Homo sapiens: one gene and its partners. The protein of the gene in region 3 purifies or fractionates together with the protein of the main gene of each other region. This does not show direct contact. Each region holds a gene or a part of one and is shown on either strand. Other genes may lie near its edges.

Region 1 (3,461 bases), on a different chromosome or scaffold from region 3:
CATGCAGGTGAATTACACGACTTTGCAATTCGAACTGAGTATATGTATATAATATACACTCATACATTTATGTATTTCTTTTTAAATAGGGGACATCCTGAAGTTCTTGAAAAAGAAGAAACCTGAAGATGCCTTCTGTGTTGTGGGAATAACAATGATTGATCTTTACCCAAGAGACTCGTGGAATTTTGTCTTTGGACAGGCCTCTTTGACAGATGGTATTCCGTTTTTGGCATTGTTGTTAGAAGCTTCTTCAGCTTGAGAATATTTGAAGATGTTAGAAGAGGGAAAAAATTCCAACCAAGAATCATATTGATATTTAAAATATTTTCAGTTGAGACATTATGCCATAATGGGAAGTGTGCTGTTGGTAGATTGTGATAATCTAGGTTCTGGTTGGCCACTCACTACCTACAGGACCTTAAAGGTAACAATACCCACATCATGGAGTCATTTGGAGATAATTTACATAAAAGTGCCTGTACATAAAAAGTGTGGATAAGCCTGGACAACATAGACCACATGTCTACAAAAAAATAAAAATTTAAAAAACTAAATTAGCTGGGCATGGTGGCACATACCTGTAGTCCTAGCTACGCAGGAGGCTGAGGTGAGAGGATTGCTTGAGCCCAGGAGGTTGAGGCTGCAGTGAGCCATGATCGAGCCACTGCACTCCAGCCTGGGCAATAAAGTGAGACCGTGTCTCAAAAAAAAAATGTATATATAGGCCTGGCATATATATAGGCATACAGCATAACAGCTAGTAAATGTCAGTAATTCAGTAGCAAGGTGAATTAAACCAATTACAGTTTGAGCTATCAATGGATGTGAAAATCTTGCTAATTATTTTTCAATTCTTTTCATAGTCATCTTGCACAGTTAGAATAGCCATAGACTAAGTGTATGCTTCTTTCTCATCATACGACATTTGTTTTTTAATTTAAAGAGTCAAAACGTCCATCTTTGATTTGAGATATGTAATAAACCTTGACTCATTAGGAACTCTGTATGGTAATATTAGGGATGGGAAAGGTTCTGCAAACCGGTCATATTTTTAACCTTTTTTTTTTTTTGTCATCTCTCTACTTCTCCCCTCCCCTTAATTATTGTTCTTATTTCTCTAACTTCATCCCTAAGAATCCAACACAGACTTGAAAGGGAAAAGGCCCCCTAAGGGGAGTGGTTCATTAGTGTTCTGGGGATGGGGAGTAAGTACAGGGACTATCCTGAGAGTTTATGGTCTGTCTGGATGTTACATTAGCCTTAGGATTTGTGTGGGGTGGTAAGCTTTTTGGGACAAATGTTTCTACTAGAGGTGGGGGCTGTAGGGTTATAGAGCCTCTTCCCACTTACTCCTTTATTCTTTATTCTCCATTTATGTGAGGTTTCTTGTGGCCCCCATGGCCCTACCAGCATGCACTCTTGGAGACGTGGGTCACTACTTTCTTACTGATTTTGGTGGTGTGAGGTAGCTTTTTATCATAAGTTTTCTCTTTTATTATTAACCTGATAGAGATGGAAACATTGAAAAATAATTCTATCTACCTTTTATTTTTCTTTTGAGACAGAGTCTCCCTCTGTCACCCAGGCTGGAGTGCAGTGGTGTGATCATGGCTCACTGCAACCTCAACCTCCTGGGCTAAAGGGATCATCCTGCCTCAGCCTCCCGAGTAGCTGGGACCACAGGACCACCACACCCGGCTATTTTATTTTATTTTATTTTTGGCCAGATGGGATTTTTTTTGGCCAGATGGGATCTCCCTGTGTTGGTCAAGCTCATCTTGAAGTCCTGGGCTCAAGCGAGCCTCCCATCTCAGCCTCCCAAAGTGCTTTGATTACAGGTGTGAGTCACCACACCCAGCTAAAAAAATAATTTTAAAACCATATGTTCGTTTATCTAGATATTGCTAGCTAACTTATCTTATGTGTTTGAGGAGGTCAGGAAACATTTCCCCAAACTGTATTTACTTTAATTCTTTTTTTGGTAAGTTTCTTAAATATTACATGACATAAAAGATTTACATAGGAAAGTAGCAGGATTAGACAGTGACAATATCTTAACACAGTGGTCTTGTTTTCTCCGAGTTTACAAAGATTGATATTTTTAAAGTGAGACGCATTGACTACGAAAAAAATAGTCTATTTGTAGGATTATTGGAAGAAGGAAATGTCCTTGCTGAAAGTAGTGAAATATGCTCACACTTGATTGGCCAGAGGGGGTTACTTGTGATAAAGGAATAGATTTAGTGTGCTCTTAATTTCCAGAATGCTATCTTTGCTTAATTTTCAAATATCAGTCTACATTTTCTGGGTAAAGGGAGGTGAGGAAGTTTGTTTTTGAATCAAATTAGATTGGACAAATCTACTATGGGTTTATTACTTTAAAAACTGAACGAGAGACATAAATAAAAGTGATCATGTAAACAAGTCGAATTATGAAGCAGTACCCTGTAGGGTGAGTTATGTAGCAAACCGTGTTCTCTGTGCTTGCAGAGATGGTTGATATAACTCTAAATGTAACACAGGAAGTCAGTTACAAGGGTATTTATTCTGGTCACCAGACACTAGTGACAGAATAGAGTTGAGCTGTTCTTTGAAAAGGGGGTAGGGTTGGGGAAGGGGACGAGGTTATTCTGTCAAAAGCCGTGGTTTAAAGCATGGGCTTCAAGACATCAGGGGCAGTTGTCCTCAGTCAGTGCTGCGTGAGGGAAGGCCAGCAACCCCTCCAGACACACGTGTAACAGATCTGTTTAGTGTGTCCTTAAATAGTGAAATCATGACTTCCTATTGTTCATGTGATTTTTTTTTTTTTGAGACTGAGTATCACTCTATCGTCAGGCTGGAGTGCAATGGTGCGATCTTGGCTCACTGCAACTCCGCCTCATGGGTTCAAGCCATTCTCCCGCCTCAGCCTCCCTAGTAGCTGGGATTACAGGCACCTACCATCATGCCTGGCTAATTTTTTTTAGAGACAGGGTTTCACCATGTTAGCCAGGCTGGTCTTGAGCTTCTGACATCAGGTGATCCACCTGCCTCGGCCTCCCAAAGTCCTAGGATTACAATCGTGAGCCACCACGCCCAACCCATGTGGTTATTTTTTATGATTCCTTTTTGAGTACTTGATTTGGAGTACTTGCTACTTTCAGAAAAAGACTTCTTTTGTGGGAAAAGACTCTCTGAAACTTCAGTTTCTCAAGCATTTGACCTCAAGTCCATTAAGTTTTACAAGGCAAGGCAAAGTGGATAGCAGCAAAAGATTTTGATAGGGAAATCTGGGGCAAAAGTCTTCCTTTTTGGTGGCAAACCATAAGTGTATCAGATGGTGTGGACACAGTGACACAGAGATGCACTCACTGGCCAGATGGGCCAGCAGTCTCTTCTTTCTTTGGTCTTTCTTCAGGGACCTTACTCTCATTCTGTCACTGTTTGTCCTTTTTTTGTAGGTGTGGGGATATTCAGCT
Region 2 (3,655 bases), on a different chromosome or scaffold from region 3:
AGCCACGCGGATGTGGTGTGTTTCAGGAAGTCCTAAGAAGTCGTGTTTTCTTCTGTGTCCAAAGCTTAACTAAATGAGGTCTTAGGAATGACAATGTGAATAAACAGTTTTAAAACAACAACGAAATGAAATCACCAAGAAGCGTGGCTTACTTTTACACTGGAATCCAGCACCAGCCCTTCATCATGAAAGGTTCTAAAAGACACCCTGTGTGATCGGGTCTCTGCTGGTTTTAAGGGAGTTGTCTCTCGGCGAGGCCTCGCTATAGACTGCTGATGAGTTTGAAGACACCCTGTGCGGTCGGGTCTCCGCTGCGTTTAAGCGAGCTGTCCTCGCTGTCTCTCGGTGCTGATGAGTTTGCACTTGTGTGTTTCTTTCTTCTCTCAATCCAGGTCTGGTCTTTAGAGCAGCCCGAATGGCACTGCAAAATAGACGAGGGCTCAGCCGGGCTGGTGGCCTCGTGCTGGAGCCCGGACGGGCGCCACATTCTCAACACCACGGAATTCCATGTAAGTGTCAGCCCCAAGACACCTTACTGGCCATGTGATCCTGTCCTCTGCTCTCGAAACAGCTGGGGAGTGCGAGAGGGGGTGTGTTTGGAGTATGCTAGTCTCCCCTTATCCTCAGGGGATGCATTCTAAGACCACCAGGGGATTCAGATTGTACCAAACCCTGTATTTCCTGTGTTTTTTCCTATACAGCATACCTGTGATACATTTAATTTATAAATTAGATACAGTAAGAGATTAGCAACAATCATAGTATAGAACAAGGATAACAATATACTGTTTATAATTGCATGGATAGAAGATTTGGTCTTACTGAAGATCTGAGCAACAACCTCAGCATAGGATTTTTTCTTTCCTTGTTGCGTCAAGAACTTTCAGCTCGTCATTTAAAGGAAGCACTTTGTGGCTTCTCTTTGGCGTATCCAGATTGCGAGCCCCACCGCCCGTGCTTTGGGCTGCTACTGAGTCAGATAAGGGTGTCGTGAACACAGGCACTGTCTGCTGCCCTGGGTCTGATGACTGAGGTGGCTCCCGAGTGGCTGGTAGATTGGCGGGGTTGGAGGGAGCCGGGGAGCGTATATAGTGGTGTGTATATTTTAGGTCAGAGCATTATAAGCCACTAAGTATTATTGTCTGATCTTTTGTCCAGTTTTGAAGAAAAAACATTTTAAAAATCTTAATTTAGATTTTTTAGGATTTCGGCACTCCCTTTAATTCAACGATAGAAAATGCGCTGTGATATGAGCCGGCTCGCACCTTTCCTTCAGGAGCCTGGCCTGGGGGCGTGGCTCGGGGCGGTCGGCAGCCGCCCATTCACCTGCTGTAGGTACCGCACAACAGCCTCCGTGCTGAGCTCAGCGCGGAGGGGAATGTTGACATCCGAGAATAAATCAGAGGGATCTGGGATAGGAGACTGCATTTTAAGTTAAAATTAGGCATATGTCAAGTGTTTAGATACCAGGTCTTTGGTGTCCGCAGTGTCTTTTTAAGATACAGAAAAATGGACGAATTCCTTTAATAATGTGCTTTTCTGATGGAGTTGGATCCCAGTGTTTGGGCCCAAGTCCACTGAGTGCTCATAGCTGTCTGGGCTGCTGGCTGCACCTCGGTAACCCGCCCATCCCGCTGCGCCGCGCACACCACGGGGCAACCCGCCCATCCCGCTGCGCCGCGCACACCACGGGGCAACCCGCCCGTCCCGCTGCACGGCGCACACCACGGGGCAACCCGCCCGTCCCGCTGCGCCGCGCACACCACGGGGCAACCCGCCCGTCCCGCTGCGCCACGCACACCACGGGGCAACCCGCCCATCCCGCTGCGCCGCTCACACCACACTGCAGCCCTCCCGTCCCGCTGCGCCGCGCACACCACGTAGATGATGGCACCTGGGAGGATTTCTCCCAGCGTGTGGCTGCAGATGCTCTGTAGGGTTTCATTCGGCTTTTTTCAAGCTGGCATCGGCTGGGATAAAGTTTTATCCAGCCATGAGGGTTGCTGAATCAACTGCTTCAGATGGCTGGATGGCTTTACATATTTTTCAGTTTCGATTTTAAAAAATACTCCAAATCTAATGTCTGCTATTATGGGCTGTCAGAGAATAAGACAGGAAACAAAGGCCCACCAATGTCTCCGCACTATGTATTGACATTGGAAGGCACTTTCGGCCTGAGTGTTTCAGAGAGGATAATTTGAGCTTTTCACGCAGCCGTGTCTAACAGTCTTCAGGCCTGTAATGCTTTGGGCCCAAATCTGCCCTTGAGAAGGGCTCATGTCATGGGGTCAGCCTTGTTGTATTATCTTATTAAATGGCCCAGAAGGAAAACTACCATCTATAGAGTTTAGAAACCTTAAAAGATGGATAAAAGCCTGGTTTTGTTGAGCATCCCATGTCACACACACCAATATTGAAAACACCTTTGCTACAGAACAAACTGATTTTTCATAGAGTACATTTAGATGACATTGTTCAACCTAAGACTAAGGTCATGACCACTTTGCTGGTGGCCTTAGAGGAAACGTTAAGACCAGGTGGTGGATGAGGACCGGTAACCTCAAGGCATGGGGCATCTTGACCAAGATGTCAAAATGTGTCTCCAGCTTTGCATGCGAACTTTAATGGTTGCAAGTGAGGAAACAAAACCGGAATTCCAGACGTGCTGGCCAGGAAGTGAGCTGCGGGCACCGTCCATCAGTCTCATTCACAAGAGCAAGGACCAGACCCGTTCGAGGATTAGCGGGGCCACTAGGTCCCCTTCTGAAGGCGCGACCCCATGTCCGGGGCTCAGCGGGGCCACTGGATCCCCTTCCGAAGGCGCGACCCCATGTCCGGGGCTCAGCGGGGCCGCTGGGTCCCCTTCCGAAGGCGCGACCCCATGTCCGGGGCTCAGCGGGGCCGCTGGGTCCCCTTCCGAAGGCGCGACCCCATGTCCGGGGCTCAGCGGGGCCGCTGGGTCCCCTTCCGAAGGCGCGACCCCATGTCCGGGGCTCAGCGGGGCCGCTGGGTCCCCTTCCGAAGGCGCGACCCCATGTCCGGGGCTCAGCGGGGCCGCTGGGTCCCCTTCCGAAGGCGCGACCCCATGTCCGGGGCTCAGCGGGGCCGCTGGGTCCCCTTCCGAAGGCGCGACCCCATGTCCGGGGCTCAGCGGGGCCGCTGGGTCCCCTTCCGAAGGCGCGACCCCATGTCCGGGGCTCAGCGGGGCCGCTGGGTCCCCTTCCGAAGGCGCGACCCCATGTCCGGGGCTCAGCGGGGCCGCTGGGTCCCCTTCCGAAGGCGCGACCCCATGTCCGGGGCTCAGCGGGGCCGCTGGGTCCCCTTCCGAAGGCGCGACCCCATGTCCGGGGCTCAGCGGGGCCGCTGGGTCCCCTTCCGAAGGCGCGACCCCATGTCCGGGGCTCAGCGGGGCCGCTGGGTCCCCTTCCGAAGGCGCGACCCCATGTCCGGGGCTCAGCGGGGCCGCTGGGTCCCCTTCCGAAGGCGCGACCCCATGTCCGGGGCTCAGCGGGGCCGCTGGGTCCCCTTCCGAAGGCGCGACCCCATGTCCGGGGCTCAGCGGGGCCGCTGGGTCCCCTTCCGAAGGCGCGACCCCATTTCGGGGGTTAGTGGGGCCGCTGAGTCCACTTGCGAAGGCGCCACCCCACGTGAGGGT
Region 3 (2,891 bases):
CTCCCGTGGGCCACCCATGCTGATATAATGTTAATAATAACTTTATATTTGGGTACTGAATGCTGATCCCTATAGTTAATGTGGTGGATTGACTAGTATTGCTGGCTCCGTGGTAGCCAGGATGGATGCCCTTTTGTTTTTTAGCAGTTCTCTAGGGGAACTAGCCTATTGTTTTCTGTAAACAGCACATATCATGAAGCGGCCTCTTTGGGAAATTGATGTTATCGTCTGTGTACTGTATGATTGATGTGACTCAGTGATTGTTGTTCTTCCTTTGGCTGCTAGGCCTCCTGCCCTTGGGGGGTACTTTGAACCAGATACCTCCCTCTTCTGTCTTCCAGGCCCGATTTCCCGCCAACCACTCGGGGCGACCTCGGGTGCCTCGCTGAAGACACAGCCAAGCTCCCAACCGCTCCAGAGCGGCCAAGTGCTCCCCTCTGCTACACCCACTCCATCTGCACCCCCCACCTCCCAGCAAGAGCTTCAGGCCAAAATCCTCAGCCTCTTCAATAGTGGCACAGTGACGGCCAATAGCAGCTCTGCATCCCCCTCGGTTGCTGCCGGAAACACCCCAAACCAGAATTTTTCCACAGCAGCAAACAGCCAGCCTCAACAAAGATCACAGGCTTCTGGCAATCAGCCTCCAAGCATTTTGGGACAGGGAGGATCTGCTCAGAACATGGGCCCCAGACCTGGGGCTCCTTCCCAAGGGCTTTTTGGCCAGCCTTCCAGTCGCCTGGCACCTGCTAGCAACATGACTAGCCAGAGGCCTGTGTCTTCCACAGGTATCAACTTTGACAATCCAAGTGTACAGAAGGCTCTGGATACCCTGATCCAGAGTGGCCCTGCTCTCTCCCACCTGGTTAGCCAGACCACAGCACAGATGGGGCAGCCACAGGCCCCCATGGGATCTTACCAGAGGCATTACTGAAGCTAAATCTTTCAACTCTCCCCAGTCCCCTCATCCCCTGGCCTCCTCCCACTTACTTGTTCTAAATAGAGCTGTTTGGAGGATGTTCTCTGCGCTCCCAGGCCGGCATCGAGTGTCATCAATTTCTACCACCTGCTCTCTCTTCTGCCCAAGGCTGTGTTGCTTATTCCTTACAAAGTTTATACTGCATTTGGGGCTGTATCTTTTTTTGTTTTTTGTTTTGTAGAAAATAAATATCTCCGGGGGCAGTACAGGTGTCTGGGCTTGTATTTGATGGGGTTTCTCCGGTCCCTGTTTCTACTGGATTTGGAGCCAGGCCCAGCTAGCCAAGTTTGGAATGGCATTTGTCATGTCAGTAGCCACCACCTTTGTTCATTGTGAACCTACCAAGGCTTTCCAGCTTCATACACATTGACCAGAGCTCAAGCTCCTGCCTGCAACTCCTGCCTAGAGTTGAAGAAAAGCAAACTGGCCTTGGCAGGCACAGTGTCATCATACCCTCACCCCATATGTTTGGGGTCTGCTTGAGGATTCATAAATCAGCCACTCTGGATTGTTGAGGAATGGCCATGGCAGCCACAGAAAAAAGAATTTTTCTCTCTGAGCCAAGGTTGTTTTTTGTTTTTTTCTCTTTTCTTTTTTGTTTTCATTTCATTGGAAGATCTCCAATGGACTGAACAGCTCCAGTCAGCAGCAGTTACCACAAACTGTGAATCTGGGCCCCACCACTCTTCCCTGTTAACCAGTTCTGTCAGCATCCCCCTCTCCAGCAGCACTTCCATGAAGTTGGTTCTGAGACTCTGGCCGTGAACACCCGTTTCTTCAGTGATTTGTTTTGGGCTTTTGGCTCAAAACCCCAGGCTCTTGTTTTTGTCTAGACTCTTATTCTGTTTCCTGAGCAGCAGGAGGTAGGGACCACTTTGATGTCAGACTTCTGGTAGCTGGACATGTTCTCGAGATGGGTGGCTGTTCGCGACTTTTGTACCAGAGTGAAATTGTTAGAAGGAGGGTTTCTGGCTGTGGTTCTAAATGGAGCCCCAGGAAGCTGCCCTCTCCCCAGGGTTTGTGCTCAGTAGAGCCCTGTGGATCACAGTCTTGAGGTCCTCTAGCAGGGGTGAGGGAGAGCAGCGACTTCAGCTGAGTCCCTGCCAGTGGTTAAGCAAACAATGGTTTCAAAATTCAAGGTCCCCAAATGGCAGCATTTTATGTTCTGACCTGTTTGTGTTATATAGTGGTTTTTTTTTTCCTCTTTGGAACTCTTGTGTTGTTAATAAAATGAAATGATTACTTTTTAATTAAAATGAAAAAAGTAAAAGCTTTGTTCATCTTTTTTGGGTGTGAATATGCTCTTTGCAGGATGCTTTCCCCAAGTCAGAGGTGAGGGCTCCTGTCTCGAGGACTCTGGTCTGCCCCCTTTTGTCCTCAGCATATGATCCGGCCTCAAACCTCTTTGAACCCTGCCTTCTCTTCATAGGTAGCTCACTTAGAGGCTTTAATAACAGTTCAGAGCAAAGGCCTGTTGGCTAATTATAGTGCTGTGTTCAACATCCTGCTTCTGGTAGACATTCATTGTGTCAGCAGCCTTGTCCTCTTATTCTAGGAAAGGAAAACAGGATGTGAGGAGGCCATTTGTGGTTAATGGCCATTGGTAGGGGGGCACTTCCTGTTTTCATTTTGTCTCAGTTGCCACCCTCTGTTCTACCCATTGTGCAGGGAGTTGGCAGAATTCATAGAACCTGAAGGAGCCTTGAAGAGCATTTAATAACTTGGGGTGGGTGTGGTGAAGTGGGTGGCACAGGCCTCCAGTGAGTTAGGGACCAACGTGCCAAGAGCACTGAGCCTCACCAGTTAAGTGTTCACTGCCTCCTGGGGGTATCAGTGCAGCCTGACACCTACACTTAGAAAGTGCTCACTACCTCCTAGAAGATGCCAGTGCAGCCTGACACCTAGTAAGTGCCTG

The links.
Region 1: the proteins of NCOA5 (region 3) and AMZ2 purify together in Homo sapiens (affinity purification with mass spectrometry, with the first as the bait; one large-scale study listed by BioGRID). This does not show direct contact.
Region 2: the proteins of NCOA5 (region 3) and WRAP73 purify together in Homo sapiens (co-immunoprecipitation; one study listed by IntAct). This does not show direct contact.

Annotation. Positions count from the first base shown.
Region 1 is NC_000017.11:68,250,961-68,254,421, forward strand, and holds part of AMZ2 (archaemetzincin-2), read left to right. Parts: coding exon 1-7; intron 8-89; coding exon 90-218; exon of another isoform or gene 219-427; intron 428-3,443; coding exon 3,444-3,461. UniProt on the Homo sapiens protein: Probable zinc metalloprotease.
Region 2 is NC_000001.11:3,643,520-3,647,174, reverse strand, and holds part of WRAP73 (WD repeat-containing protein WRAP73), read left to right. Parts: intron 1-392; coding exon 393-509; intron 510-3,655.
Region 3 is NC_000020.11:46,060,340-46,063,230, reverse strand, and holds the end of NCOA5 (nuclear receptor coactivator 5), read left to right. Parts: intron 1-341; coding exon 342-931; 3' UTR 932-2,240; downstream 2,241-2,891. UniProt on the Homo sapiens protein: Nuclear receptor coregulator that can have both coactivator and corepressor functions.